4 separate regions of the Homo sapiens genome follow, and all the other regions are linked to region 3. The links come from fine-mapping of genetic effects on gene expression. A gene starts in region 3. Each other region holds a variant in brackets. All regions are shown on one strand. Distances are from middle to middle. Region 1 overlaps LOC105372508 (a long non-coding RNA gene). Region 2 has its middle 28 kb from the start of DNAAF9. Region 3 holds the start of ATRN (attractin). Region 4 has its middle 24 kb from the start of ATRN.

Evidence for each region. PIP is the estimated chance that this variant, and not a neighbour inherited with it, causes the effect. A credible set is the group of variants that fine-mapping cannot tell apart.
Region 1: its variant is the best candidate, but not a certain one, in a credible set for the expression of ATRN in macrophages (Alasoo 2018, PIP 0.55).
Region 2: its variant is the best candidate, but not a certain one, in a credible set for the expression of ATRN in blood mononuclear cells (TOPMed, PIP 0.82).
Region 4: its variant is the best candidate, but not a certain one, in a credible set for the expression of ATRN in nasal epithelium (TOPMed, PIP 0.69).

What each region holds. Positions count from the first base shown.
Region 1 is chr20:3,420,949-3,428,581 of GRCh38, reverse strand. LOC105372508 (a long non-coding RNA gene) reads left to right here. Exons shown (of 3, transcript XR_937212.3): 2 at 6,504-6,631. Among named protein-coding and RNA genes, the nearest start is that of DNAAF9, 17 kb to the right of the region's middle. The variant G/C (reference allele first, on the strand shown) is at 4,369.
Region 2 is chr20:3,431,990-3,439,622 of GRCh38, reverse strand. No RefSeq gene overlaps it. Among named protein-coding and RNA genes, the nearest start is that of DNAAF9, 28 kb to the right of the region's middle. The variant T/C (reference allele first, on the strand shown) is at 4,704.
Region 3 is chr20:3,467,536-3,475,168 of GRCh38, reverse strand. It overlaps ATRN (attractin), which reads right to left and starts at 4,151. Exons shown (of 29, transcript NM_139321.3): 1 at 3,652-4,151. The coding sequence starts at 4,061. RefSeq lists a silencer at 3,765-4,324 and an enhancer at 4,425-4,564.
Region 4 is chr20:3,443,687-3,451,319 of GRCh38, reverse strand. No RefSeq gene overlaps it. Among named protein-coding and RNA genes, the nearest start is that of ATRN, 24 kb to the left of the region's middle. The variant T/G (reference allele first, on the strand shown) is at 4,295.

The DNA.
Region 1 (7,633 bases), 47 kb after region 3:
CTCCTGGTGTCTAGTTAGGTTGTATGTATTTTCCTCTCTTCCTGAGCCATCTGTATTTCTTCCTCTATAAATTTATTAGGGAAACAGGAGCATAGGGGAGCCAGGGTGACACCGTTTAAAAATCAAATCCATTTTAAAACTAGCAAAGTACGGCTGTAATCCCAGCACTTTGGGAGGCTGAGGCGGGTGGATCACCTGAAGTCAGGAGTTCAACATCAGCCTGGCCAACATGATGAAACTCCGTCGCTACTAAAAATACAAAAATTAGCCAGACACTGTGGCGCACGCCCATAATCACAGCTACTCGTGACCAGCCTGGCTAACATGGCAAAACCCCAACTCTATTAAAAATACAAAAATTATCCGGGTGTGGTGGTGGGCGCCCGGCCGGTGGTCATAAGATGTTTACAGTTGAGGAAACAGCTTAAAAACGCTTTAAAATGGGCAGGGCGCAGTGGCTCAGGCCTGTAATCCAAGCACTTTGTGAGGCCTAGGCGGGCGGATCAAGAGGTCAATAGATCGAGACCATCCTATCCAACATAGTAAAACACCGTCTCTACCAAACATACAAAAATTAGCTGGGCATGGTGGCGTGCGCCTGTAGTCCCAGCTACTCAGGAGGCTGAGGCAGGAGAATTGCTTGAACCCAGGAGGCAGAGGTGGCAGTGAGCTGAGATTGCACCACTGCACTCCAACCTGGTGACAGAGAGAGACTCCGTCTCAAAAAAAAAAAAAGAAAGAAAGAAAGCTTTAAAATGCCTCGAATCACTGCAGCCTCGACCTCCTGGGCTCCAACTATCCTCCTGAGCATCTGGGACCACAGGCACATGCCACCATGCCAAGCTAATTTTGTATTTTTTTGCAAGGACAAACTCCTGCAATGGCAGAATGTACACACGTCCCAATATCACATAACAATATATTTTTTTAAGTGATGCACTAAAATGCCAAGGATAGCCTTCTTTAAATCAGCAAAGTACTAAATTTTGTCATGCTGTCAGCCCACCTGCACGTAACCATAATTTAGTTTACCTTTTACATAGACAAGACTCCTATATAAGAAGAGGTTAAAAGTAAGCACGTTCCTCCTGTTTCCTGAGAACCCCCAATTCTGTAAGAGTAGCTTTTAACAAATGGTCTTTTCTCACTGTCCTCTACAACTCACCCTGAATTCTTTCCCGCATGAGATCCAAGAACCCTCTCTTGGGGTCTGGATCAAGACCCTTTTTTAGCAACAAATTAGCTTTTTGTATCATTTGGCCATTTTTGATGGGGGTGTTTATATTTTTGTAGTGATTTAGAAGTACTCCTTTATTTGAAAAAGTTTAAATATGCTGATAAGAAAAAAGGCCAATATAACAAACACCTGGGTACCAATCATCCAAATGAACAAATGTTGATATTTTTGTCATATTTGTATCAAACCTGTTTTTAAGGAAATAAAAATTGAGGCCAGACATGGTGGCTCACGTCTGTAATCCCAACATGTTGGGAGGCTGAGATGGGAGGACTGCTTGAGCCCAGGAGTTCAAGACCAGCCTGGACAACATAGCAAGACTCCATCTCTACAAAAATTTTAAAAACTAGCCAGGTGTGGTGGTGCACACATGTAGTCCAAGCTGCTCGGAAGGCTGAGGTGAGAGGATTGTTTGAGTCTGGGAGGTTGCAGCTTCGGCGAGCTATGATTATACCACTGCACTCCAGCCTGGGCAACAGAGCAAGACCCTGTCTCTTAAAAACATTAATAAATAAAATTTAAATAATAAAAAATTGCAGATGAAAATGTACTTACTGAGTTCACCTTCCCAGTCTGAACAACCACTCATGGTTTTTATACCTTTGCTATGTACATAGTATTGTTTTGGTTATGTTTATTTTAATTTATATTAATGGTGTCAAATTATAAATATTCTTTTGTAGCTCATTAAACCCTGTGTTTCTAAGATTCAACCATATTCATTCATTTTAATTGTATAATATTACCTTGTATAACTCTTCCATGTTTGGTTTATGTTTCACATTTGAGACCCCCTTGATGGATATTAAATCCCTGCCCCCTGCCCCGCCCGCTCCCCACCAGTTTCACTATTACAAAGAACATGGATAAACATCTTTGGTTTTACTTCACATGTTTCCATATGCAAGAGCTTCTTTTTTTTTGAGACAGTATCTCAATCTGTCGCCCAAGCTAGAGTGCAGTGGCACAATCACAGATCACTGCAGTCTCGACCTCCTGGGCTCCAACTATCCTCCTGAGCACCTGGGACCACAGGCACATGTCACCACGCCAAGCTAATTTTGTATTTTTTTGCAGAGATAAGATTTCCTGATGTTACCCAGGCTAGTCTCGAACTGCTGACCTCAAGCAATCTGCCTGCCTTGGCCTCTCAAAGTGCTGGGGTTACAGGCGTGAGCCACCATGCCCAGCTGAGAGTTTCTTTGGACGTGGAATTTCTGGGTTTTAGGGACATATATGTATCTTTTTAATTTTTTTTTGAGACAGGGTCTTGCTATGTTTCCTAGGCTGCTAGTCTCTAGCAGCTCTCTAACTCTGGGCTCAAGCAATCCTCCTGCCTCAGCATCCCAAAATGCTAGGATTATGGGCATGAGCCACCATATCCAGCCAATGTATCTTCTACTTCACATATTATAAAATTGCTGTCCAAAGCGGTTATACCAATTTATACTTTCCACAGAAGTGTATGAGAGTTCCCATTCCATATCCTGGCAATATTAAATAATATCTCAAGCTTAAAATTCTTTTCTCAAATTAATGGATATAATGGTATCTCTTTTTTTTTTAATTTTTTTCAGACAGTCTTGCTCTGTCGCCCAGGCTGGAGTGCAGTGGCGCAATCACGGCTCACTGCAACCTCTGCCTCCCAGATTCAAGCGATTCTCCTGCCTCAGCCTCCCGAGTAGCTGGGATTACAGGCATCTGCCACCACACTCAACTAATTTTGTATTTTTAGTAGAGACAGGGTTTCACCATGTTGGTCAGGCTGGTCCCGAACTCCTGACCTCGTGATCCACTGGCCTCAGCCTCCCAAAGTGCTGGGATTACAGGCATGAGCCACCGTGCCTGGCCGGCATCTCATTGTTTTTAACTTGTCTTTTCCCTCATTGTTAATGATATTGAGCATATTTACATACGTTGAGTTTCTTCATCTGTGAATTGCCTATCCTAATTCTTTTTTTAATGAATTTTATTGTGAATATTTAAGATGTACAGCGTAATGTTATGAGATACATGTATATATAGATAGTAAAATATTTATCATAGTGAAACCAATTAACGTAGCCATCATCTCACATAGTTACCCATTTTTCCCACAGTGGCAAGAGCAACTATACTCTGCACATTTAGCAAAAATCCTGATAAAATAAATTACTAATTGTCGTCCTCAGCTAGGCGCAAATGCTCATGCCTGTAAACCTAGCACTTTGGGAGGCCAAGGGCGGAGACTCGCTTGAGCCCAGAAGTTCAAGACCAGCCTGGGCAACATGGTGAAACCCTGTCTCTAGTAAAAATACAAAAATTAGCTGGGCATAATGGTACACACCTGTGGTCCCAGCTACTTGGGAGGCTGAAGCAGGAGGATTCCTTGAACCCTGGAGGCAGAGGTTGAAATGCTGAGATTGCTTCATTGCAGTCCAGCCTGGGTGACAGAGTGAGACTCTGTCTCAAAAAAACCCCCAAAACCAAAAAACTATATTCCTTATGGAATCACACATTGGATCTTGAAATTTGTTCAATTTACATATTTGCTACTCTGGATCCTTTGACATCTCTCTCAATCTCTTCCTCATCACCCTACCCCTGGTAGCCGCTTTTATTCTCTGTCTCTGTATATTTGACCTTTTCTTTGAGACTGAGTTTCGCTCTTGTCGCCCAGGCTGGAGTGCAATGGCTCACCGCAAACTCTGCCTCCCAGGTTCAAGCGATTCTCCTGCCTCAGCCTCCCAGGTAGCTGGGATTACAGGTGCCCGCCACCACGCCCAGCTAATTTTATATTTTTAGTAGGGACAGGGTTTAACCATGTTGGCCAAGCTGGTCTCCTGGTAACATTAAATAATATCAAACTTAAAATTCTTTTCTCAAATTAATGGGTATAATGGTATCTCTTTTTTATTTTTATTTTTTTGAGACAAAGTCTCACTCTGTTGCCCAGGCTGGAGTGCAGTGGCGTGATCTCAGCTCACTGTAACCTCCACCTCCTGGGTTCAAGTGATTCTCCTGCCTCAGCCTCCTGAGTAGGTGGGATTACAGGCACCCGCCACCATGCCCAGCTATTTTTTTTATTTTTAGTAGAGACGGGGTTTCACCAGGTTGGCCAGCCTGGTCTTGAACTCCTGACCTCAGGTGAT[G/C]CACCCGCCTCCACAAAGTGCTGGGATTACAGGCGTGAGCTACCGCACCCGGCCTGTAGTAAATCTTAATGGCTAATAGCTTTATAGTAAATCCTGCTATCTGGTAGGGCAAGTTCTCTCTCCTTGTTCATCTTTTCCGCAAAGAACTTTCCTATGAATGACCTTAGGGAGCGGGGGGTTTTTTTCTTTCTTTCTTTCTTTTTTTTTTTTTTAGATGGAGTTTCGCTCCGTCTCCCAGGCTGGAGTGCAATGGCACAATCTCGGCTCACTGCAACCTCTGCCTTTGGGGTTGAAGCGATTCTCCTGCTTCAGCCTCCCAAGTAACTGGGATTACAGGCACGCGCCAACATGCCCGGCTAATTTTGTATTTTTGGAAGAGACGGGGTTTCTCCATGTTGGTCAGGCTGGTCTCAAACTCCCGACCTCAGGTGATCAGCCCACCTCGGCCTCCCAAAGTACTGGGATTACAGGCGTGAGCCACTGCACCCTGCCAGGGATCAGTTTTTAAAGTTCCTTTTAAAATATTCTGTTGGGATTTTGTTAGAAATTGCATTTAATTCACAGGGTAACATGGAAAGAATCAATGTTGTAATGAGCATTCTAATAATCATGGTATATATTACTTCTTATTCTGTCTGTTTTAGTTCATAGTCCCTCTCCTCCTGCTGCTCAGTAGTGGACCTAAGGTAAGGATTTGAGTGCAAGTACCTTATGTGGGAGGTAATCCTAGGAAAACGAGCAGCAGAGTGGGGAAGAGATTCAAGGAAGGGAGAGCAGTCGATTGCACATTATCAAGCAAATGGGCAACTGGAGCTTAATCCTGCTGGGAAACCCTTAGAATAGCTACAGAATGTGTGTCCCAGAGTTATCCTACCTGACAAGTGAGAAGCTGGGGTATTTACGCAACTTCCTTCAGTCATTGACTGAGAGCTCAGCTCCTAGCAGGCATTAATTCCCCAGCTCTTCTAGCCTCCTGACCCAGCGTGCAAGGAAATGGTAAGTGCCAAGGAGCACTAACAGTGTCTGCTAAGCTACCGAATGGTCTTAAAAATATATATGTAATATATATAAACACATATTTATATATAATAATAAATATATATTATATATTAATACATAATTATATAAAATATATGTGAAATATATTTAGGAAAACAAATTATATAAAAATATATTATAGATTATATATTAAAATATATTAGATAATATATATTATAATATATAACTATATGTTAATGTGATTAACATGTTGTATAATATATGACATATGTTATATATAACATATACAATATATTATATATGTTTAATATATTATACATTTTTAATATATAATACATTTTACTATCTATTATATATACATGGAGTACAAGTGCAGCTTTATTGCGTGCATATATTGCTTAGCAGTGAAGTCTCGGCTGTTAGTGTACACATCATCTGAATAGTGAATATTGTACCCAATAGGTAATTTTTCAATCCTCACCCTTCTCCCACCCTCTCACCTTTTGTAGTCTCCAATGTCTATTATCCCACTCTGTGTGTCTATATGTACACATTATTTAGCTCCCACTAATAAGTGAGAACATGTGGCATTTGACTTTCTGTTCCTGAGTTATTTCACTTAGGATCATGGCCTCCAGTTCCATCCATGTTGCTGCAAAAGATATGACTTCATTCTTTTCTATGGCTAAGTATTACAGTATTCCATGGTATATGCACATACTACATTTTATCCAATTCTCCTTTGACAAACACTTAGGTTGATCCCCTGTCTTTGTGATTATTGTGAACAGTGCTGCAATAAATATTCCAGTGCAAGTCTCTTTTTAATACAATGATTTCTTTCCCTAAAGAGTCTTTTGGAAATTCAGACACAAGCAACTTTCTCCCCTGCCTAAAATTTTTTGTTGTAGAGAAATTCAAAATTGTTGACATGGCCTATGGGTTTCTACACACTGGCTACGAACTCCTTTCCTGCTTCACCCTGCCACCTCCTTTCCCAGGAAGTTTGCTCTCTAGCCCCGCTGAACCATTGTCCCTCCACTCCCTCAGAGGCAGCCAGATTCTGTCAAACCCTCGCTTCTTTGCATTTGTTGTTTTCTCTACGTCTAATGCCCTTCCCTTATTTTTCTTCCTAGAGAAACCCTTCTGGGAACCAGAGTGGTTAGGAACATGGACATTGAAGTTAGAGCTGGAATCGAAACTCAGTTCGAATGCAGCCACCTTTTTGCTTTGCTGAGTGGGAAATGCAAGAGGGAGGCTAGAGGTAAAGCTGGGCAGGCTTGAGAGTTTTTGAGAGAAATGTTGGAATGCTGGGGAGGAAAAAGGTTCAGGAAGGGCTGAGGAGGTTTGCCATCTGAGTTTTGATGTTTCTCTTTATTGTTTCTCCATGGAAATAAATGTATTTATTTATTTAATATTTTGAGACAGCAGGGCCTTGCTCTGTCGCCCAGGCTGGAGTGCAGTGGCGCGATCTTGGCTCACCACAGTCTCTGTCTCCCAGGCTAAAGCGATCCTCCCACCTCAGCGTCCCAATTAGCTGGGTCTACAGGCGCACACCACCATGCCTGGCTAATTCTTTTGTATTTGTTGCAGAGATGGAGCTTTGTCACGTTTCCCAGGCTGGTCTTGAGCTACTGAACTCAAGCGATCTACCTGCCTCAGCCTCCAAAAGTGCTGAGATTGCAGGTGTGAGCAATTTAAATTTAAAATATAAATTTCAAATTAAAAAAATTTTTTGGCCAGGTGCAGTGGCTCACGCCTGTAATCCCAGCACTTTGGGAGGCCAAGGTGGGCAGATCAGCTGAGGTCAGGAGTTCAAGACCAGCCTGGCCAACATGGTGAAACCCTGTCTCTACTAAAAATACAAAAGTTAGCCGGGCGTGGTGGCAGGTGCCTGTAATCCCAGCTACTCAGGAGGCTGAGGCAGGAGAATCGCTTGAACCCAGGAGGCAGAGGTTGCAGTGAGCCGAGATCACGCCATTGCACTCCAGCCTGGGCAACAAGAGCGAAATTCTGTCTCAAAAAAAAAAATTTTTTTTTAATTTTTTGTAGAAACAGGGGTCTTACTATGTGGCCTCAGCTGGTCTTGAACTACTAGCTTCAAGCAGTCCTCCCGCCTCAGCCTCCCAAAGTGCTGAGACTACAGGATTGAGCCACTGCACCTAGCCTCTCCATGGAAATTGCCATAAAATGTAAATTATTTGTCAAGGGAAAAAAATCTTCTCTGACAGTTAATTTGGGCAAGTCACCTAACCTTTCTGAGGCT
Region 2 (7,633 bases), 36 kb after region 3:
TTCTGTTATTTGGAAGTGAGCCACAAAGTCCAGCCTACCCTCAAAGGGGTTGGGGAGAAGAAGTAAACTTCTTTTTGCAAGGTGGAGAGCATAGCTACTTATGTTATTTGAAATTCTTCTATAAGGAAATTTGTCCCTTTTCTGTCATTTATTTTTCAATCATTTTCTCTCTGTAAATATGGCCTCATCTATACTTATTTACACTTTGGGTTACAATCCAATACCACATTATTTATTTTGGTTCCCAAATTGGTCTGGCTTTGGCCATTGGAAACTCCTCAGAGTTGGCTGTGGTATCCCTCTGACTTTTTTTTTTTCTTGAGTACTTCCTTGCCTTCTGGTCTATCAGGTGCTCTGGGCTCATCTTGCATTTTCCTTGCCTTGAAATAGCTTCAGTCATTTTTTCAAGAAGCCCTGGTTTTTTAAAATCAGAGAATGGTATTTAGAAACCATTCTTGGTTTAGAAACCAAGATCTGGGCACTGGATGTGCTTGTTTTATTGGGTGTCACTGCTCTTGGATCTCTTAGCAGAGGGTTAGAATAATATGTATGTGTATACTAATCCATTTAGACACACATTTATTTCTAAAGTTATTTCTGTATTTACTCATCTGTGGGTGTGTGTATATGCACACACACACACATAAATATGAATTCATACTAATTTCTGTGTGTGCGTATGTGTGTGTGTGTGTGTGTGTGTGTGTATGTATTTTGAGACAGAGTCACACTCTGTCGCCAGGCTGGAATGCAATGGCACAATCATAGCTCACTGCAGCCTCAAACTCCTGGGCTAAATCAGTCCTCCTGCCTAAACCTCCCAAGTAGCTAGGACTACAGGTACATGCCACAATGCCTAGCTAATGTTTTAAATTTTTTGTAGAGATGGGGTCTCTCTATGTTGCCTAGCCTGGTCTCAAACTCCTGGCCTCAAGGAATCCTCCCACCTAAGCCTCCCAAAGTGCTGAGATTACAGGCGTGAGCCACTGTGCCCAGCCTGTGTGGATATTTTTTAATTAATTCATTGTTCTAGGTTCCTGGTAAGACCTTTCAATGCAGAAACTTGTGACTTTGTGTTAGGGAAGCAGGAGCCTAGAAGAGCCAAATTAAAAGTTCAGCTCCATCTGGAGACTAACAGGGCACATTCCTTGCCAGTCACTACCCATGATTACAGATGTTTATAGTTGAGGAAAGACCATAAAGACACCTACGAGGACGCACTCCTCCGTCAGAGAGTTCAGATGTCCCAGTACCCATAAAAACACATGCTTTCAAGATAATAACAGTTATGGCAGGGTATGGTGGCTCACACCTGTAATCCCAGCACTTTGGGAGGCTGAGGAGGGCAGATCACTTGAGGTCAGGAGTTTGAGACCAACCTGGCCAACATGGTGAAACCTTGTCTCTACTAAAAATACAAAAATCAGCTTGGCATGGTGGCATGCACCTGTAATCCCAGGTACTCGGAAGGCTGAGGCGGGAGAATCGTTTGAATCTGGGAGGCAGAGGTTGCAGTGAGCCGAGATTGCACCACTGCACTCCAGCCTGGGCGACAGAGCAGGACTCCATCTCAAAGATAAAAAAAGAGAAGAAAGATAATAACAGTTATGCTCTGATGGACTCACACACTGAAATGTCAAAGAGGCCGGGCATGGTGGCTCAAGCCTGTAATCTCAGCACTTTGGGAGGCCGAGGCGGGCAGATCACGAGGTCAGATCGAAACCATCCTGGCTAACACGGTGAAACCCCATCTTTACTAAAAATACAAAAAATTAGCCGGACGTGGTGGCGGGCGCCTGTAGTCCCAGCTACTCGGGAGGCTGAGGCAGGAGAATGGCGTGAACCCGGGAGGCGGAGCTTGCAGTGAGCCGAGATTGCGCCAGTGCACTCCAGCCTGGGCGACAGAGCGAGACTCCGTCTCAAAAAAAAAAAAAGAAAAACTCTGTGTGTGTGTGTGTGTGTGTGTGTGTGTGTGTGTGTGTGTGTGTGTACCCTCGTGTGCTCGCACAAACGAACAGAGCTAGAGTTAAAGGAATTCCAAGGACAATTTGCTGGGTAAAATTCAAGACTGATTAATTTTCCACAGGGCAATAAAATCATTGTATTTAACCACACAACCAGGCTATAAAAACATAGAACCTATTAGTCTCTAAAGTTAAACTATACCAGGCTATAAAAACATAGAACCTATTAGTCTCTAAAGTTAAACTGTAACTTTATAGAACCATAAAACTGTCTGTTTCTTCAATCATTATGGATTGATTACATACATTGTGGCAATGGAATTTCATTCCCCTGGTGTGTCCCATGAGGGTAAATTCCCAGGATGCAGGTTCTGCTTTTATTGAAACAGGGTTTGAAAAAGTGTTCCCCTAAGATCTCAGGAATTAGGCAATCATAATTTTGCCATTTTCCCAAGTGTGGAATCATTTCCTCTTTAATACCTGTGTCAGGTGAGAATGTCTGAAATATGTGTTTTGTTTGGTTTTTTGAGACAGGGTCTCACTCTGTTGCCCAGGCTGGAGTGCAGCAGCGTGTTCATGGCTCACTGCAGCCTTGACCTCTCAGGCACAAGCTATCATCCCATCTCAGCCTCCTGAGTAGCTGGGACCACAGGTGTGTGCCACCACGCCTGGCTCATTTTTGTAATTTTTTTTTTTTTTTTGGTAGAGATGGGGTTTCACCATGTTGTCCAGGCTGGTCTCAAACTCCCAAGCTCAAGCAATCCACCTGCCTCAGCCTCCCAAAATACTGAGATTACAGGCCTGAGCCACCATGCCTGGCCTAGAACATCTGAAATATTTATTCTCGACATCACTAGCTCAATCTTGTTTCAATGTCTGTTCTTTTTGTCCTTGTGAGTTTTGTCCTTTTTATTTTTTAACTGTTATTTTAGTGAGGTTTGGAGAGGACGTAGGCCCAAATGCATGGACTCAATTCCCCACTTTTAAAAAATTTTTATTTTATATTATTTTTTGGTAGAGACAGGGTCTCACTATGTTGCCCAGGCTGGTCTTAAACTTCTGGCCTCAATCAATCCTTCTGCCTCAGCCTCCCAAATTGTTAGGATTACAGGTGTGAGCCAACAAGCCTGGCCCAGTTCTGCTTTTTTGATCCCACATTTCCTCCTGCTCTCTATTGTCCAGGACTTTCATCAAATGCCTGGCCTTTTGGCTTTTCAGTTTCCTGATGCTGCTGTAGATGTATTACTTTCCCTCTTTCATGTCTTTTCTACATTTCACCAGGAGTGTTCAGCAAGAGTGACAGTGTGCACTTGTGTGCTTTATACACTCCCTTGATCCAGGTCTTTTCCTGACTATATCAACACTTGGTTCCAAATAGCAAAGAGCTCTCCATCTTTGGGGATAGAAGCAAACTGTTCCTATTACTCAGAAAAACCATTGCTGTAATGTTGCAAGAATTAATAGGTATCTTGTCTGCTATAGTCTTCCCAAGGCAGGAAAAAAACCATAAGCATCTCCTTTCCAGCCCTGACCTCTCCATTTCTTCCTCACCCCCTTCCACCTCCAGAAGATGCATCTTCGTTTGCTGGCATTCTGGCCTTCTTTGCCTCAGAGGATGCCCTTGTCAAGTTCTAGCTGTATTGCCTGGTGGGTGTGAAACCACTCTTAACATAAACTCCTCAGCTGGTCCTTGGCAAGGGCTTTTCCTCAACTTTTCAGATTTAGTGGGTGTTTCAGATTTTAGTTTAGTGGTAGTTATATATGCAGAATCCCAGGCCCCACTGGAGGAGAGGGAGAAGGTGGCTTGCAATCTACATTTTTATGGAGGCCCTCATGTCAAAATCTGGGACAATCTCAGCCTCATATGAATAATGCAGGAATGGATTATTATATATTGAATCAAAAGGAATCCATGTGTCTCTATTGATATTAACACCAAAAATTTTGGCCTGTGCTCACACCTGTAATCGCAGCACTTTGGGAGGCCAAAGCAGGAGTATCAGTTGAGCCCAAGAGTTCGAGGTTACAGTGAGCTATGATCATGTCACTGTACTTCAACCTGGGTAACAGAGAGAGACTCTGTCTCAAAACAACAACCACCACAATAAATAAATAAAACAACCAACAATGGTATTTTATTTTATTATTATTTTTCTTAATAGAGACAAGATCCTGCTATGTTGCCCAGGCTGGTCTCGAACTTATGGGCTCAAGCAATCCTCCCACCTCAGCCTCCCAAAATGTTGGGATTACAGGCGTGAGCCACTGCACCTGGCCAACACCAAAAATTTTAAAGGGGGTAGAAAAGAGGGCCAGGTGAGGTGGCTCACACCCGTAATCCCAGCACTTTGGGAGGCTGAGGTGGGTGGATCACTTGAGGTCAGGAGTTCAAGACCAGCCTGGCCAACATGGCAAAAACCCATCTCTACTAAAAATACAAAAATTAGCCAGGCGTCCTGATGCCCATCTGTAATCACAGCCACTTGGGAGGCTGAGGCAGGAGAATTGCTTGAACTTGGAAGTCAGAGGTTGCAGTGAACCAAGATGGCATCACTGCACTCCAGACTGGGCAAGAAAGTGAGACTCCATCTCAAAAAAAAAAAAGAAAAGAAAGCTCTTCTTCATAAAAGAATGCCAAATTGTGAATGTAGATGGAATGATAGAAATGGAAAAATCATCATTTTATGACCAGTCTATTAATAATTGATTCAGGCAGGCATCATCAATGGAATGTAAAAC[T/C]ATTAGGATAAAGGGGGTTGGGAAAAATGATATTCATAAGGTTTGAATGTATCACCCTACAGGCTGTTTAGTAATCGCAAAAGGGAAAACGTATCTTTACCACAGAGAGAGCTGAAGGTCACCACGTTGACCATCAGATTACACTTAGCATCACCATCAACGTGAAAATTGACTGGTGTGTTGCACTGAGAAGACACAACATCACTTAATGTTTCTACCAATAATCTAAACCCAGATTTATTTTTAAGAAAATCAGGTTGGCCAGGTGCGGTGCCTTATGCCTGTAATCCCAGCTACCTGGGGAGGCAGGAGAACCGCTTGAACCCATGAGGCAGAGGTTGCAGTGAGCCGAGGTTGCGCCACTACACTCCAGTCTGGGCCACAGAGCGAGACTCCGTCTCAAAAAAAAAAAGAAAGAAAGAAAGAAAGAAAATCAGGCCGTTATGATGTCATCTTGATTTTAAATACAAAGGCTTAGTCAGTGCACATGATCAACACTTTGAACTTTCAGTTCCCTTCTACCACAGCCTCCTATATGTTCTAGAAGTGTCTAAGGGAGACTCTTGTGCAGTGCTCTCAGAATCTTCCATTCTCCCTCTGGAAATGTCACCTGCCAGGCCTCTGTTGTATGAAAAGAGTTAGCATGGCCTCTTATGTTTTTGCAAAGTGCTTCCAATGCCAAGGTTACTCTATGCTGAAATATGCCTTGAAGCCACTTTCTTACATTATGATCCCAAAGGGACCACTTTAGACTTCCAGCATCTCACCAAGATTTTTATGTGACCATCATCCAGTTTATGTCATTAGTCCTTAGGACTGAGAAGTGGGTCCAGGGTGGCTTACAGGGGAAAGTGGCTTAGTCAGTATTGTCTTGCTGGTCTTGCTCTCTGGGGCATGGGATTCTTATTCCAAGCACCCATCCAGTCACGTAGCTCACGCTGGAACTCTCATCAGCCCATTGATATCTTGGAGTTTAACACAAGGAAGTATTGCACAAGACAAGCCAGAGACCCATGGACATAATGGCTGCCAAAGCAGAGAAGGGGAGGTGACAGATTTAGGAGACAGCAGCCGCCCTCACCCTCACTGTCCTCTCTGTTCCTCCTCTTTCCTTGGAAAACAGGCCTTCCTGGGGACCTCCTGCTCCCCTCAGTTATCCAGACTCTACCTGTCTTTTGTTTATACTAATGATAGCATGCTAGGTACAGTGTTCTCCATCTTGCTTTTTTCATTTAATATTTTTTTTTTTGAGACAGGATCTTGTTCTGTCACCAGGGCTGGGGTGCAATGGCACCAACACAACCCACTGTAGCCTCGACCTCCCAGGCTCAAGCAATTCTCTTGCCTCAACCTCCTGAGCAGCTGGGATTATAGGTATGTGACACCATGCCCAGCTATTTTTTAAAAAATTTTTTGTAGAGACAGGGTCTTGTTATGTTGATGAGGCTGGTCTTGAACTCCTGGGCTCAAGCAATCCATGTGCCTTGGCCTCCCAAAGTACTGGGATTACAGGTGTGAGCCACTACACTCAGCTCAACATTTTTTATATGTACAATTTGTTCATATCCTTTATCTTTGTCTTTTATATCTTTAAGAGAACTCTTTACCACCTTTTTAGTGAGGTTTCTGGAGAGGGTGGAAATGAGTATTTTCTATCCACCACAAGGTTTCCTTGGAGTTTACAAGTATATGTTGATATCCCCTGAAAATCTAGATAATTTTGTCTCCTCTTTTCCAATTCCATACTTCAAATCTTTAAAGATTTAAAGACTAGGTGTAGTGGCTCACACCTGTAATTCCAACTCTGTGAGAGGATCACTTGAGCCCAGGAGGTCAAGGTTGCAATGAGCCGTGATCATGCCACTGCATTCCAGCCTGGGTGACAGAACAAGACCTTGTCTCAAAAAGCAAGCAAGCAGGCAAACAAACAAACAAAACACGCTTATTATGGAAAAGAAGGGGGCAGAAGCCAAACTAGGGAGAGGAAGAAGTTAAACTGTGATGCAGGCCTAATAAAGCTTCAGCCAACACGGCAGGGAGTTTTTGAGTGAGAATTGCTCATTAAAGTGTCCCATGTTGACCCCAAAGAGGGAGGTCTTTATGCCTCCACCCGACTCAGTCATTGCACACTGGCTACCTTTGGAGGGACTGACCACATTCTCTGCAGCCAGGCAGCAAGTTCTTCCCTGAAGGGAGATCTGGGCCGCATATCTCTATGTCTATCACAACTTATCCATTCCATCAAGGTGGTGGGGAGGATTTGATATATTGCAGGGGATAAGCAAAGAGGAATTTTTTTTTTTGCAGCTTTGGACATTCACAATGGAGTTTTACTGCAAATCAATAGGCTCCAAAGCAAGATGTTGTCAAGAGGAAAATCGTTTTCTAAATTCCTTTAGTTTTCATTTGACATATGAAGACTCTGAGGTTGGAGCATTTCTTCCATAGTGTGCTTTCAAAACCTAGGCCTAGGCCTGAGGGTATGATGGAGAAGAAAATGAGGGAGAGGTAGCAGAGAATGACTATGGAATACATGGGCCCTAGTCTCTCTGTTCTAGACTGAATCATGAAGAAGCAGAGGTAGTTTGATAATTCAACTGGGCTTCAAGGGCAGGAGGCATTTGATCTATTCCATATTTGGGATTCTGGAAGGAGGCCACCATGTAGAATGGCCCTGCTTGAATCCAGTTAAGAGTAATGTGCAGAATGGTTAAGCAGGGTTACAGCCTCGACTGGCCTCCTGTTATGATCCTTGGTAGAGCAAATGCTGAGAGTCAGTAGGTCTGTCCTGGGGCCGCAGAGGGTGCTGAGTGGACTGATCAGCATGGACGGGAACAGAGGGGGCAGAACCAGGACTCAGAGGTGTCCACAAGGCAAGCGAAAGCCAATGAGAGGCTAAGTCATCAGACCCAGCTCAAACAGAAAAAGAT
Region 3 (7,633 bases):
TATTCATTTAATGTCTTTTAATAACAAAGAGGTTTGTAAGTTCAATCAAGATACAAGCCACTGCAATCAAAACCAACATTTCACTCTTGCCCCCAAAAGAATACTTGGACTAAATTTTTTTTTTTTTTTTTTTTTTTGAGATGGAGTCTCACACCCTCGCCTGGTCTGGAGTGCAATGGCGCAATCTCGGCTCTCTGCAACCTCCGCTTCCCGGGTTCAAGCAATTCTCCTGCCTCAGCCTCCCGAGTAGCTGGGATCACAGGCGCCTGCCACCATGCCCAGGTAATTTTTTGTATTTTTAGTAGAGACGGGGATTCACTATGTTGGCCAGGCTGGTCTCAACTCCTAACCTCTTGATCTGCCCGCCTCAGCCTCCCAAAGTGCTGGGATTACAGGCGTGAGTCACCGCGCTTGGCCTCGACTAAAATTTTATTGAGTTTTTGTTGTTGTTGTTGTTGTTTTGAGATGGACTCTCGCTCTGTCACCCAGGCTGGAGTGCAGTGGTGCGATCTCGGCTCACTGCAAGCTCTGCCTCCCGGGTTCACGCCATTCTCCTGCCTCAGCCTCCCGAGTAGCTGGGACTACAGGTGCCCGCCACCACGCCCGGCTAATTTTTTGTATTTTTAGTGGAGACGGGGTTTCACCAAGTTAGCCAGGATGGTCTCGATCTCCTGACCTCGTGATACACCGCCTCGGCCTCCCAAAGTGCTGGGATTACAGGTGTTAGCCACCACGCCTGGCCTACTGAGTTTTTTTTAAAAGACCAGAGTCATAAGTTCCTCCTACTTTCATTTTTAAAAATGCAAAATCCCAAAGCCCACAAAATATAATGGTATCATCAGGACCAAAGTCATAATTGTCTACCCAGGAAACAGCACTGACATCACCTAGAATCAGCTCAAAGGGAATGTCCACAATAAGCAGGGGAGTCCCTTCACTCACCTGTGACACTATTTGAGACAACCAGTGTCAGGACTGCCTGTTCCCTGCAACAAGTAGCTCTTATCCAATCCTCTGGGCTTTCCATGTGGACTCTCAGAGAGAGCTCCCTGGCAATCTCCCTCATAGGTCGATGACTCCAAACTTAACATCTGCCAGGTGTGTACTCTGAGAGCACCCCAAACTCAGCATGCATGCAATTAAATGTCTAACACCTGCTCCTGTGTCCCTGTGTCTGTTAATGGTATCACTGTCCTCTCAACCACCCAAGACAGGATCTAGTTTTCTTTCCCTCACCATCCCCCACCTTTCCAAGAGCAAACCAGTTTACACGGAAGACTTGTCCATTTCACCTCTACAAGCTCTCATTACCACTGCTCTGACCCATGCCAACAGATCCCACCTAGCTGCCCCCTATCTCTCATGCCCAAAGTGAGTGTACCTACTCTGAACATTACAGATTGATCTTGCTATGAAGTCCCCTTCCCACACCGCTGGTCCCCACTGCCTACCACAGTGTCCCAGGTTTTCAGAACTTGAAGGATCCTCGTCTGACTCAACCATCCATTCACCTGACCTTGGAAGCTTCTCAAATGGAAAATGCCCTGGCCTCACCTTCAAGGCCATTTGTATTCTGGCTCCAATCTAAAAGCCTATAATGTCATGAAAATAGGCGTGAACTACGCCATTTCACAGCTCTTGGGCTAAAGGTCAAAATTCTCAATCCAACCCACAGATCTCCACTTGGCCTGGCTTCCCGCCTTTCTCTCCAGTCTTGCCAAGCTCCCCTTTGCTCTCTCTGCTCCTGCCACCTGGCCTTCCATCCGCTTCAACCCCAAGCCTCTGTACCTGCTGGCCCCTCAGCACCCCACCCCTCACGCAGGTAGTACCATCTCACCCCTCAGACTTCACATCGCTTCCTCAGTGACTTACCTTACCCCTAGACTAAGTCAAGTCCTCTGTTTGTCTCCTGCTCTTTACCTCCACAGCCTTAAACAAAATTACAATAAAATTTTTGTTGGATTTTTTTACTCCCAAGCTGAAATGTGAGCTCCGTAAGAGCAGGACTGTGCCTGTCTTGTATACCACTGTATCTCACAACCTAAAACATAGGAGCCCTCAACAAATACATGTAGGTTAATGGAATTCATAAATCAGAACACCCTAAGTTACAAAAGCAGCTTCACTGCATCAGTGGTCCTGAAGTAACTTGGTTTCTCCATCCATAAAACTAAAGAGCTCATCTGCTCAACGTTCTCTGAGTTCCTCAGAAGACCTAATATTACCTAAGTCTACAATTTTGCTATTCCAAACTCCTCTCTCACAACTCTCTTCCACATAGGCAGCAGCAAAACTTTACTTTCCAGCCTCCACAACTTTGTTTGCACCCTTCTTTCCATCTGTAATTTTTTTCCAGCTCCACATTTCCAAATCCTACTTAACCTTACATGCTCAAATCCAATGTTACCGCCTCCTCAAAGTCCTCCTTGCATCCCTCCAGCTAGCCACAACCTCTCCATCCCTGAATTCCCACAAGTTCCCTGTTGCCTCATTCAGGTCTCAGATCAAATGTCATTTCAAATGAGAACCCTCTCCAAGAGTCACCACCGGTTATAATTCTCTATCAGACCACGCTGTTTTTATTTTCTTGATAGCATTTACCATTACCTGAAATTACCATGTTTATTTCTCTCATTTATTTACTTGTTAAGTGCCTGTTGCTCCCACTAGAATGTTAAGGTCAATGAGAGCAGAGGCCCTGTCTGTCTTGTTCACATTTCCCCACTCCCCCACATCAGACATGTGTTCAGTAAGCTAAATACCTGTCAAAGGCGTGAATGACTCTGTAACCCTTATGACTAGGGTTATGTGCGCACATTATCTTTCTCTTGCTATATTCCAAACTCCCTGTGGACAAGGCCAAAGTCTGGCTAATCTGTCTGTATTATCTGGAAAATCATTGCACAACTGAAGCAAATAACGATAACTGCTAATTAATTTATTGATTTCTCCAAGAGGAACTGCCCCAAACTAAGCCAATTCAGAACTTCATATTGTCCAGAAACCAAGGCAAATAGGAATCTCCTTCCATTCCCTCTTCACCACAGACCCTATTCCAATTTGCCACCTCCAGGGAGCTTTTGCCAAAAGGCTAGTTTCCTCACTTTCCTTTAGAAGGACCACTGGTCCTTCTATCCCTAATATCTTACAATGCTACCCTTTCCCTTTTATCTCCAGCCAACAAAGCATTTCCAGGGCCCTGTTTCTTCAGAGCACCCCACATCTCCAGTGCATCGGGGAACTCATCGGGTCCTAGGGCACATGTGGATGTTAAAAGGAAGTGTTCAAGCAAACCTGGCTCGACCACCTTTCCTTGGATACCTCGTTTAGCTGAAACACGCCGAGTTTTAGAGCGATCGGCTTTGATGCTCTTTGGGTCCCTCAGCATTCTTCCCATCTAACTAACCTAAGCACCCAAATACCGTCGGGGTGCCCCCACCCTTGCCCCACACCTTTTCACCTTCCAACAGAGAAAGACCCCAGGCCAGAGACGATGATCTCCCCGGAAGCAAATGGCCCTCAAACCCCATAGGGCGGCCCTACCCTCTCCACTTTCTGTCCAGCATCTCCCTCTGACCTGGAGCCGTCTCGAACGCCCCTCAGCCCCAGCCTCTGGTTGGACCCGACCCTCCGACACCACCCGCCACTCACCTGAAGCGGCCCCCGCAGTGCTGGCATTGCTCGCCCACCCAGCCGGCGGGGCAGACGCACTGGCCGGTGCCAGGGTTGCAGCGACCGCCGTTGACACAGGGCCGGTCACATTCCTTGGCCTCGGCTGCGGCTGAGCCCGACACCGCCGCCGCCGCCGCCGCGGCCTCGGCCTCACAGGGCAGCAGCAGCAGCAGCAGCGGCGGCGAGAGCAACAACAGCAGCAGCAGCAGCCGTGGCCGCAGCGGTGGAGACAGCAGCCGCGGGAGGCGCAGCCCGGCCCCCAGCCCCGGCCTCCCAGCCCTGGTCACGTCCCAGTCCCAGTGCGGCCCGCCGCTCCTGCCCGCGAGCGCTGCCGTCGCCGCCGTCCTCCTCCTCAGCCTTGCCTCAGTTGCCGCCGCTGCAGCCACCATCTTCCCGGGGCTGAGACGGCGCCCCGCGAACACATACACACACACCGCACGGCCGGCTCCGCTTCGCCTGGCCGTGCGGGGCGGGGCTGTGCGGACGGTGGCTCGTGCGGTCCAAAGGGGCCACAGCGGGGCGGTGGGCGGGGCCGGCGCGCGCGTGCGCGAGTACGTGGGTGCGTGCGTGCGGGGGCGCAGACAGTGGTCTCCGGCGTCCGCGGCGCCGGAGGCGATCTTCTGACGTGGACCGTAGAACGAGCTGAAACCCGGCTGCGCTGTCCCGGCCGGCGAAAGCTCTAGTTTTCCCCCTTCGCCTTTCGTCCCCGGCGGCGGGGTTGCAGCCCCACTGGATGCCTAGGAGCCGACTGCGTTGAGTGTTGCCCTCCTAGAGACCCGGCACTCTGCCCTAACTCCAGCTGCCGGACGGAAAGGGTACAGGAGGCTGCATCGCAGCGAGGTGCTGGGTGCGGTACTGTAGAAGCCAGGCTTCATTCGAGCCTCTGTAACACAAGAGTCAAGAAAGAACACATGTAGAACCTGGCATAGGCCGGGCGCGGAGGCTTACGCCTGTAATCCCAGCACTTTGGGAAACTGAGGCAGGCGGATCACTTGATCTCTGGGATCCGAGACCAGCCTGGCCAACAGGGTGAGACACTGTCTCTACTAAAAATACAAAAATTAGCCGAGCATGGTGGTGCGCGCCTGTATCCCCAGCTACTCCAGAGGCTGAGGCAGGAGGATCGCTTGAGTCTGGAGAGGTCAAGGCTGCAGTGAGCCGCAGTCGCAGCACTGCACTCCAGCCTGGGCAACACAAGACCCTGTGTCAAAAAATGAAGAACCTGGCATGTAGGCTGTGCTCAGTAAATGCCTAATAAACTGAATGAAGACACACAGCCAGGCCTCTTGATAACAGATGGACTGTAGCTGACCAGACCCCCTACCTTTAATTCTGTAAAAGTTTGGAGTTACCTTGCTCCCCACAATTTGCCCTCCAACCATCTTCTCTGAAGAGTGGGCAATATAGAATTAGGAAATGGCGCTCACACAGACCTGCCCCTTCTTGTCTGGTAGTTGTTACTCTGGTGTCCCTCAATGAGACATGTCTTCCATCAATGTAGCCTTTTATGGTCCTTGACCCTGGAATCTGGGCTGGGTCATGATTGAGACCATGAGAAACCATGACTCAATTTCACCAATAGAAGAAGTTGGTAGGAGTAGCAATGTCTTGTTTCTAGCTCTGAGCTTAAAAAAGACCTGGCAGCCTTGGCCGGGCACGGTGGCTCACGTCTGTAATCCCAGCACCTTGGGAGGCCGAGGCGGGCAGATCACGAGGTCAGAAGTTCGAGACCACCCTGATCGACGTGGTGAAACCCTGTCTCTACAAAAAATACAAAAATTAGCCGGGCGTGGTGGCACACACCTGTAATCCCAGCTACTCAGGAGAGTCGCTTGAATCCAGGAGGCAGAGGTTGCAGAGAGTCGTGATCGCGCCACTGCACTCCAGCCTGGGGGACAGAGCGAGACTCTGTCTCAAAAAAAAAAAAAGACCTGGCAGCCTTGATTTTGAGCTGTTGGTGGTCATGAGCTGCACCCCGTTAGCCACCTTGCTGGAGAGAAACCATGTGCAGAGACCACTTGGACTTGGAGAGGGAGAGCTGGGCCGCTCAGCTGGTGGAGCCATCCTAGCTAAGGGATCAGTCATTGAGTGAAGAAGCTATCTGGGTTGGGTTATTCCAACCGTCTGGGCTGTTCCATGTTACCTACAACAGTAACAGGTCTTTCCTAACTGTGACTTATCCAAAATCCTAAGAAATAACTCATTTATCATTTAACCCTTAAGTGATGAATTATTTATAATTTTTCATAAATTATGATTTATGTTATTTTAAGCCTCTAAGTTTTAGAGAGGTTTGTTACTCAGTAATAGATAAGCAGAACATTGTCCGACATAATGCTTGTGCTATGAGGAATATTCCTATGGCACCTACCTCAGAATCTGGGCACCTTACAGTCCCTGGGAAACAAAGAAAAACCCTCATAGACCTGTGGAGCCTCTCAGCTTTACCTCAGAGTATGGAATTTTAAGGTTCTAAGATGGATTTCCACACTCATACCCAGGTCCCACTCTCATACTCAGGTCCTGACTGTCCTCACTGCATCTTCTTCAAGCCTGGTGAAGCTGAATTGCACAAAAGCCTTACCCCCAGCTCTACATCCACACATACTCCCCATTCCTACAGGAAAACTATTGTTCGGCCTAGGCCCTAGCACTGACATTCTGGTTTGCAGGTTATGTTTTTGCCATGTAGGATTTTGAAATTGAAGACATGGCCCTACCCTCTGGCAGGACCCCATCAGATGGGGAGGCTGGCATAGGCCATGCCCTAGCTGTAGGAGACATTGCTCCCCCTAATCTTCCAGGCCAGAAGTGAACCAGCCCTTTCCTTCCCTTCCCTCCCCACAGCAAGACTGAACCCACACTGTGAAGTTTCACATGATTTTACCAACATTCAGGGATAACAGAAAAGGTGTGCATCTGAAGAACAGCAATCCCTAGACTAGATATTGCTACTCTGAAGCCTTAGAATCTTGCTGCAGCAAACATTCTTTCTTACTTCCTTAATCTACTCTCTTCTCTGGTTCTTTTTCCTTAGCTTTCAAACATGCTCAAATTATTTTGTCCTTAAAAAACAAACACGCTGGGTGCAGTGGCTCATGCCTGTAATCCCAGTGCTTTGGGAGGCCAAGGTGGGAGGATCACCTGAGGCCAGGAGTTTGAGACCAGCCTGGACAACATAGTGAGACCTTGTCTCTACAAAAAATTTTTTAAAAAATTAGTCAGATGTGGTGGCGTGCATGTGTAGTCCCAGCTACTTGGGAGGCTGGGGCAGGGGGATCACAGAGCCCAGGAGTTTGAGGCTGCAGTAAGCTATGTTTGGACCACTGCACTCCAGCCTGGGCAACAGATCAAGACCCTGTCTCTAAAAACAAATAAACAAAGAAACAAAATCTTACCTGCTATCTTCTTTTTCCTTTACTGCGTTTATCAAAAAGTCCCCTACACATTCTATGTCTGTGTGATAGATTAAAGATGGCTGCAAATTCTCTTACATTCCTTCTATGGAGAGATCAGGTCTAACCCTTGGCCCCGGCCCCACCCCCACCCCCACCCCCACCCCACTCTGAATCTAGCCTGGCCTTAGTGATTTGCTTGACTGATAGACTATGGTGGAAGTGATGTACTGGGATTTCTGAGGTCCCAGAAATGGGACTTTATGCTAGGTCATAAGAAGTCTTGCAGCTTCCTCCTGAAGTGTCTTGGAACACTTGCCATAAAAGATGTCCAGCTACCCTGAGACCACCATGCTGTGAGGAAGCCAGCCCCCAGCCATTCAAGTCTTCCCAGTTGGGGCCCCAATCATGAAGCAGGGGGGTGTTGTTCCTGCTGAACCCGCCCCAAACTGCAGATACATAAGCAAATAAATGAGCCAACTGGGGACAGTTCGTTACACAATAATAAATTACCAGAATACTCTGTACCCTGGTTCCTCCAAGGACAAGAATAAGTCTTGTGATGT
Region 4 (7,633 bases), 24 kb after region 3:
AAAAATTATCTGGGCATGGTGGGTCTTGTCTATAGTCCCAGCAACTTGGGAGGAAGATCGCTTAAGCCCGGGAGTTTGAGGCTACAGTGAACTATGATTGGCCACTGCACTGCAGCCTGGGCAACAGAGCAAGACTGTCTCTAAATAAATAAATAAATAAATATGAAAAACAGGGCTGGGTGCGGTGGCTCACACCTGTAATCCCAACACTTTGGGAGGCCGAGGTGGGTGGATCACGAGGTCAGGAGATCAAGACCATCCTGGCCAACATGGTGAAACCTCGTCTCTACTAAAAATACAAAAATTAGCTGGTGTGGTGGCGGATGCCTGTAGTCCCAGCTACTCAGGAGGCTGAGGCAGGAGAATCACTTGAACCCGGGAGGCAGAGGTTGCAGTGAGCCAAGATCGTGCCACTGCACTCCAGCCTGGCGACAGAGCAAGACTCCATCTCAAAAAAAAAGAAAAAAAGAAAAACAGAACTATTTCTCTCTGAATCTCTCAGTTCTCTGGGCTTCTTTTCTGTTGAAGTTCCCTTCACCTTGTTGGAAATATGGCCCATATTCTTATAGTTCATGATTTCAAAGGAAGGGAGAGAGACTGTCATGACAGACTGGGTGTAGGAATTCCAGAAGAGTCTTTGAACCAGGTTGGGCACTCTGACTGATGTGTATCGTATATCCATTCCTGTGTCTGGATGAGGCATTTCAAACTACTCAAGCTGCTCCACACAAGACAGAAGAGTTTTGTCATGGAAGAATGGAAGAAGAAAAAGCCTGTAAGTATTGAACAGCTGCCATATTCATCTCAACCTTTCGTGTCTCACTTATGAAAACTTTCCTCCCTCTGAATTTTAATTTTTAATCCTCCAACATATTTGCTTTTAGAATTTTTGATATTTTCATTTTAGATCTATATTTCGCCTAGAATTTATTTTTATTGATGGTATGAGGTAGAAACCTAACTTAATTCTTTTCCAATATATAAAACCTGTTGTCCCCAAACCATATATTGAGTACTCTCTTCTTCCCAACAGTTGGAAATGCTGCATTCATTAAAGCTAAATTCTACATTTCTGTGGGTCTGTTTCTTGATTATGCAGTTTGCTCCATTGATCTGTTCTTCTATGCATGTAACAATTCCCTGTTGTTTAAATATTGGTTAACTTCTCTTTTTTTTGGAGATGGAGTCTCGCTTGCTCTGTCACCCAGGCTGGAGTGCAGTGGTGCGATCTCGGCTCACTGAAACCTCCTCCTCCCGGGTTCAAGCCATTCTCCTGCCTCAGCTTCCTGAGTAGCTAAGATTACAGGCACATGCCACCATGACTGGCTAATTTTTGTATTTTTTTTTTAATAGAGACAGGGTTTCACCATGTTGGTCAGGCTGGTCTCGAACTCCTGACCTCGAGTGATCTGCCTGCCTTGGCCTCCCAAAGTGCTGGGATTATCGGTTAACTTCATTGGGAAGCCCTGCTTTTTACTTGATCCTAAACTTCTAACTGGTATGTTTTGATTCTCTCTGGTCTTGTGTTCCATTAATCTGATTCTGCCAATTTTTCTTTATTTTTTCAATAATTTTAAAATTGATTTCTAATTGTTAATTCTTACCAAAGCAACAAATGAAAATGGTTTAAAAAGTAAAATAGTGCTGTGAAGCTCAAACTGAAAAGCAACCCGTCTGGGCAACAAAGTGAGATGCTGTCTCTACAAAAGAATGACAAATTAGCCAGGCATGGTGGCACCCACCTGTGGTCCCAGCTATTCAGCAGGCTGAGGCAGGAGGATTCCTTGAGCCCAGGAGGCTGGGGCTGCAGTAAGCCCTGGTCATGCCACTGCATTCTAGCCTGGACAATAGAGCAGGAGCCTATTAGAAAGAAAAAGAAAGGAAGGAAGGAAGGGACAAGGATGGGAGGGAAGGGGAGGGGAAGGAAGAAAAGAAAAACTCCATTTCCCAATCCCACCCAAGGTGAGTGCTAAAATTATTTCTCCTTGCATTTACATCCATAGTTCCAAGGAACATGCTTATAGTGCCAATTTTTTTTTTTTTGAGACAGAGTTTTGCTCTTGTCACCCACGCCTGGCCTATAGTGCCAATTCTTGACTTTTAAATACATTAACAAATTGGCTGGGTGCAGTGGCTTATGTCTGTAATCCCAGCACTTTGGGAGGCTGAGGTGGGTGGATCACTTGAGGTCAGGAGTTCAAGACCAGCCTGGCCAACATGGTGAAACCCTGTCTCTACTAAAAATACAAAAATCAGCTTGGCATGGTGGCATGCGCCTATAATCTCAGGTACTCGGGAGGCTGAGGCGGGAGAATCGTTTGAACTCGGGAGACAGATGTTGCAGTGAACCGAGATCGCACCACTGCACTCCAGCCTGGGCGACAGAGCGAGACTCCATGTCAAAAAATAAAAATAAAAATAAAATAAATAGATAAGTAATAAATTAACAAATCGATTAGACAAAAGCAAACAACTCAATAGAAAAATGAGTAGGTATTCTGGATACAAGTCCTTTCTCAGACACATATATGGCAAATATCTTCCACTCTCTGGCTTACCTCTTCATTCAATGTCATCTTCTGGTGGACATAAGTTTTTAATTTTCAGGGCCAGGTGCAGTGGCTTACACCGTAATCCTAGCACTTTGAGAGGCTGAGGCAGGCGGATTGCTTGAGCCCAGGAGCTCAAGATCAGCCTGGGCAACATGAGAACCTTTCTCTTAAAAAAAAAAAAAAAAAAAAAGGCCGGGCACGGTGGCTCACACCTGTAACCTAGCACATTGGGAGGTCGAGGTGGGCAGATCACCTGAGGCTGAGGTCGGGAATTCGAGACCAGACTGACCAACGTGGAGAAAGCCCGTCTCTACTAAAAATACAAAATTAGCTGGGCGTGGTGGCGCATGCCTATAATCCCAGCTATTCGGGAGGCTGAGGCGGGAGAATTGCTTGAACCTGGGAGGTGGAGGTTGCGGTGAGCCAAGATCATGCCATTGCACTCCAGCCTGGGGGAAAGAGCCAAACTCAAAAAAAAAAATTCTTAATTTTTATGTCCTTGAATTTATTGTTTCCTTTATAGTTAGTGGTTTTTGTGACCTGTTTAAGAAATATTTGTCAGGCCAGGCACCGTGGCTCACACGTGTAATCCCAGCACTTTGGGAGGCCTAGGCAGGCAGATCACTTGAGGTCAGGAATTCGAGACCAGCCTGTCCAACATGGCGAAACCCCGTCTCTACTAAAAATACAAAATTTAGCCAGGTGTGGTGGTGCACCTCTGTAATCCCTGCTACTCGGGAGACTGAGGCAGGAGAATCGCTTGAACCCGGGAGGCAGAGGTTGCAGTGAGCCAAGATCGTGCCACTGTACTCTAACCTGGGTGACAGAGAGAGACTCCATCTAAAAAAAAAAAAAAATTGTCTACTCTTTGACAGTGAAACATTTTTCCTACATTTTTTTCTCTGAACATTTCATTGTTTGCCCTTAATATTTAGATGTTATAGTGTGTATGGTATGAGAAAGAAGTCAATTTTCATTTCTCCATATGGATACTAGTGCTGATAATTTACCTTTCCATTTTCTGCTTGTGAACACTGGGACTGGGGCCTGTGAATTATGTTTCTCAGCCTTCCTTGTTGATCGTTTCCCATTAGGCTCTCCAAGAAGAGATACATGGGCAGGAGATCAGAAGGCAGCAGAAAGAAGTCTTTCTTCTTTTTCCTTTCTTCTCAGTCTTTCCTTCTTCCTCTTTGAAGTGGAGGCCCCTCCTTCAAAGTTGAAGCTCTGGCAACATGTTCCTCCTCCCTGGGCCCAGCTCCTTTCTCTGCACTCTTAGATTCTGGTGGCACCACCTCCCCTACATTTGTTCCCTAAATGCTAGAAGAGACTGGAGTTACTTTTCTCTGGGTTACCTCATCTTCTTTTTGATCTTTCAGATTTCCATCACCTGTCTAACCACTTCTCTATACCAACTTTTCTGTTTCAGCACCATTTAACCGAAAAGGCTCTCCTTTCCCTGCTGCTCTGCAGAGCCATCTTTGTCATAAATTGTTTAAATATGGTCTAGTTTTCTATCTTAACACCAATACCATACTGTCTTGAGTACTAACTTTTAAAAATTTATTTTATTACTATTATTTTTTTAAGACAGGGTGTCGCTCTGTCACCCAGGCTGGAGTGCAGTGGCGTGATCACCACTCACTGCAGCCTCCACCTCCCAGGCTCACGTGATCCTCCCACCTCAACCTTCCTAATCACTGGGACCACAGGCACTCACCACCTTGCCCAGCTAATTTTTGTGG[T/G]TTTTTTTTTTTTTCTTTTTCGTAGAGATAGGGTTTCGCTGTTTTGTCCAGGCTGGCCTCAAATTCCTGGGCTTGAGCGATTCTTCCTCCTTGGCCTCCCAAAGAGCTGCAATTACATACATGAGCCACCACACCCAGGTTCTAACTTTTTAGTAAGTCTTGGTATCTGGTAGAACGAGTCCTCCCACCTTGAGCCAATATCACGCTCCATTACTGTAGTGATTAAGGAAATGCTTTTTTCTCTATTACCCGAAGGAGTCTGTGTAAGACTGAAATTATTTATTCCTTAAATGTTAATATGACTTGCCAGTAAAGCCATGTGAGCCTTAAATTTTCTTTGAAGAGAAGTTTTAAATTATGAATTCAGGTACTTTAAAAGTTAGAGGAGTTTTTCAAGTTTTCTATTTTTTCTTGTATCATTTTTGTATTTTCCCTAGGATTTCCACCTTAATTTTTAAATTGATTGATATAAAATGTGTCCATAATATCCTCTTTTTAGTTTTTAGAATTTATAGGATCAGAAGTGATGCCTCTGTTATATTCCTGAGACTGTTCTCTTTTTTCTTGATCAGGATCACAAAAGGTTTATCAATTTCATTAGTCTTTTCAGAGAACCAATGTGTGGCTTCATTAATCCTCTCTTTTGTATGCTTGTTTTCTAGTTAATTAATTTTTTCCAGGTGGAAGCTGGGGCTGTGGAGAAAACACACACACACCACTCAAAGTAGAGAGAAAATGGCTTTCCCCCCTCTACCTGCTAGTTTTCTGAGAATGCCCCTATCGGCTGAACCAAAGTCTAGGACATGTAGCTCCCTGTATTTCAGAGTAGAAAAGAGAAAGGAAGAAAAGAATAGGCAGAAAGAAAGAATGGCAAACAACAAGCCTGTAGATCTATTTTGTCAGTTTCTGCAAGAAATATGTTAAAATGTCTCACCATGATCATAGACACATCTATTTCTACTTCTAGTTCTGTTGATTTAGCATTTTATTTTGAGGACGATATTAGTAGGTGCCTACAAATTTAGAATTATTACATCTTCCTGGAAAATTGCCTTTTTTCTGAGACGGAGTCTTTCACTGTCACCTAGGCTGGAGTGCAGTGGTGTGATCTCGGCTCACAGAGTGCAACCTCTGCCTCCTGGGTTCAAACAATTCTTGTGCCTCAGCCTCCTGAGTAGCTGAGCTTACGAGTATGTTCTACCACACCCGGCTAACTTTCATATTTTTAGCAGAGACAGGGTTTCGCCATGTGGGCCAGGCTGGTTTTGAACTCCTGGCCTCAAGTGATCCACCTGCCTCCCAAAATGCTGGGATTACAGGTGTGAGCCACTACACCCAGCCAAAATGACATTTTATCATTGTGAATTATGAGTCTTATATTTGTCTCAGTTCTTCTTTTTCTTTTTTAATATATAGAGACCGTGTCTCGCTATGTTGCCCAGGTAGGTCTCAAACTCCTGGCCTCAAGTGATCTTCCTGCCTCAGCCTCCCAAAGTGCTGGGATTACAGGTGTGAGTCACTGTGCTCGGCCTGTCTCAGCTTTTCTAACACCTATTCCTCTCCTTTCTTTCCTTCTGACTGATTAATATAGTTCATTATTCCATTTTTTGTTTCTGCTAATTTGAATGTTAAACAATCTTTTTCTAGTAATTTAGCAGTGACCCTCAAAATCATAATGTTTATCATTGCCTCATCCAGTCTAATGTGAATTGATCCATTAACCCTCCTCCTGGGCAATGCAAGGACCTTAGAACACTTTTAAGTCCTTTTACACACACCTGACATATGGCCATTGTTGCACATATGCATGTAGTTTTTTGTTGTTTTTTTTTTGAGACTGAGTTTTGCTCTGTCACCAGGCTGAAGTGCAGTGGCGTGATCTCAGTTCACTGCTGCAATCTCCAACTGCATGGTTCAAGCAATTCTCCTGCCTCAGCCTCCCGAGTAGCTGGGATTACAGACACACACCACCACGCCCAGCAAACTTTTGTATTTTTTTTAGTAGAGACAGGGTTTCACCATGTTGGCCAGGATGGTCTTGATCTCCTGACCTCATGATCCGCCCGCCTCAGCCTCCCAAAGTGCTGGGATTACAGGCATGAGCCACCACACCCTGCCTACATATGGTTTTTATCCAACAAAACATCATGACTATCATTTTAAATGACCAATGTACATTAATATTTACCCACATTTTACACTTATATTTACCCACATATGTTCCATTTTGTTACTCATTATTTCTTTCTGCATCTCTGGTCTTCTATATTAGAGTCATTTTCTTTCTACCAGAAACACACCTCTTATACTTTCATTTAGTTATGGTCTATAGATGACAAAGTATTTGTTTCTGAATTCTATTTCTTATTTTTTAGAGACCGAGTCTCGCTCTGTCGCCCAAGCTGAAGTCCATTGGCACAATCAGGGCTCACTGCAGCCTCCAACTCCTGGGCTGAAACAATCCTCCAACCTCAGCCTCCCAAGTAGCTAAGAATACAGGCATGTGCTACCACACCTGGCTAATTTTTTGTTTTGTTTTGAGATGGAGTCTCGCTTTATTGCCCAGGCTGGTCTCAAACTCCTGACCTCAAGGGTTCCTCTCACCTTGGCCTCCCAAAGCACTGGGATTACAGGCATGAACCACACCCAGCATTCATTGAGCTTTAAACTTCAGTTATTCCAGTTTTTATTTACTAGAAACTCTAATAACTGAATAACTTCAGTTATTCTAGTAAACTAATATTTACTAGAAAATTATTAGTTATTCTAGTAAATATAATACTATATTACTAGTAAATATAATATATATTATATTTAATATGATGTTGAATATACTAATATAACACTATAAATATTACTATTATAATAGTACTATTATATTACTAGTAAATATAATATTTAGTAGTTATTCTAGTAAATTCTAAAATTTACTAGAATAACTTATTAGAATAACTTCAGTTATTCTAGGTTTTATTTACTAGAAACTTTAATTGATATTTTTCTAAAACTTGTTGGTCAACTTTTAGCATTTGCTATCTCTTATAGATATTTTTCAGGCTTTTCATTTATTTCTTTAAATATTTTAAGTGTACTTTTTATAATCTGTCTGACAATTCTAATATCCTAAGCCTGTGTGAATCTGTTTCTAGAGTTGGTTGTTTCTGCTGTTTCTTTCTCATGTTATCTTATTTTCTTGTTTATTATCTTTGACCTCCTGCTGGTCATCACCCTTGAAAATGTATTTTAGGTGCTCCCTAAGGCCCAGAATGGATATATCAAGTTCCAGAGAGACCTTCTATTTTGCTTCTGTTTCATCACTCAATGACTTCCTCAAACTAA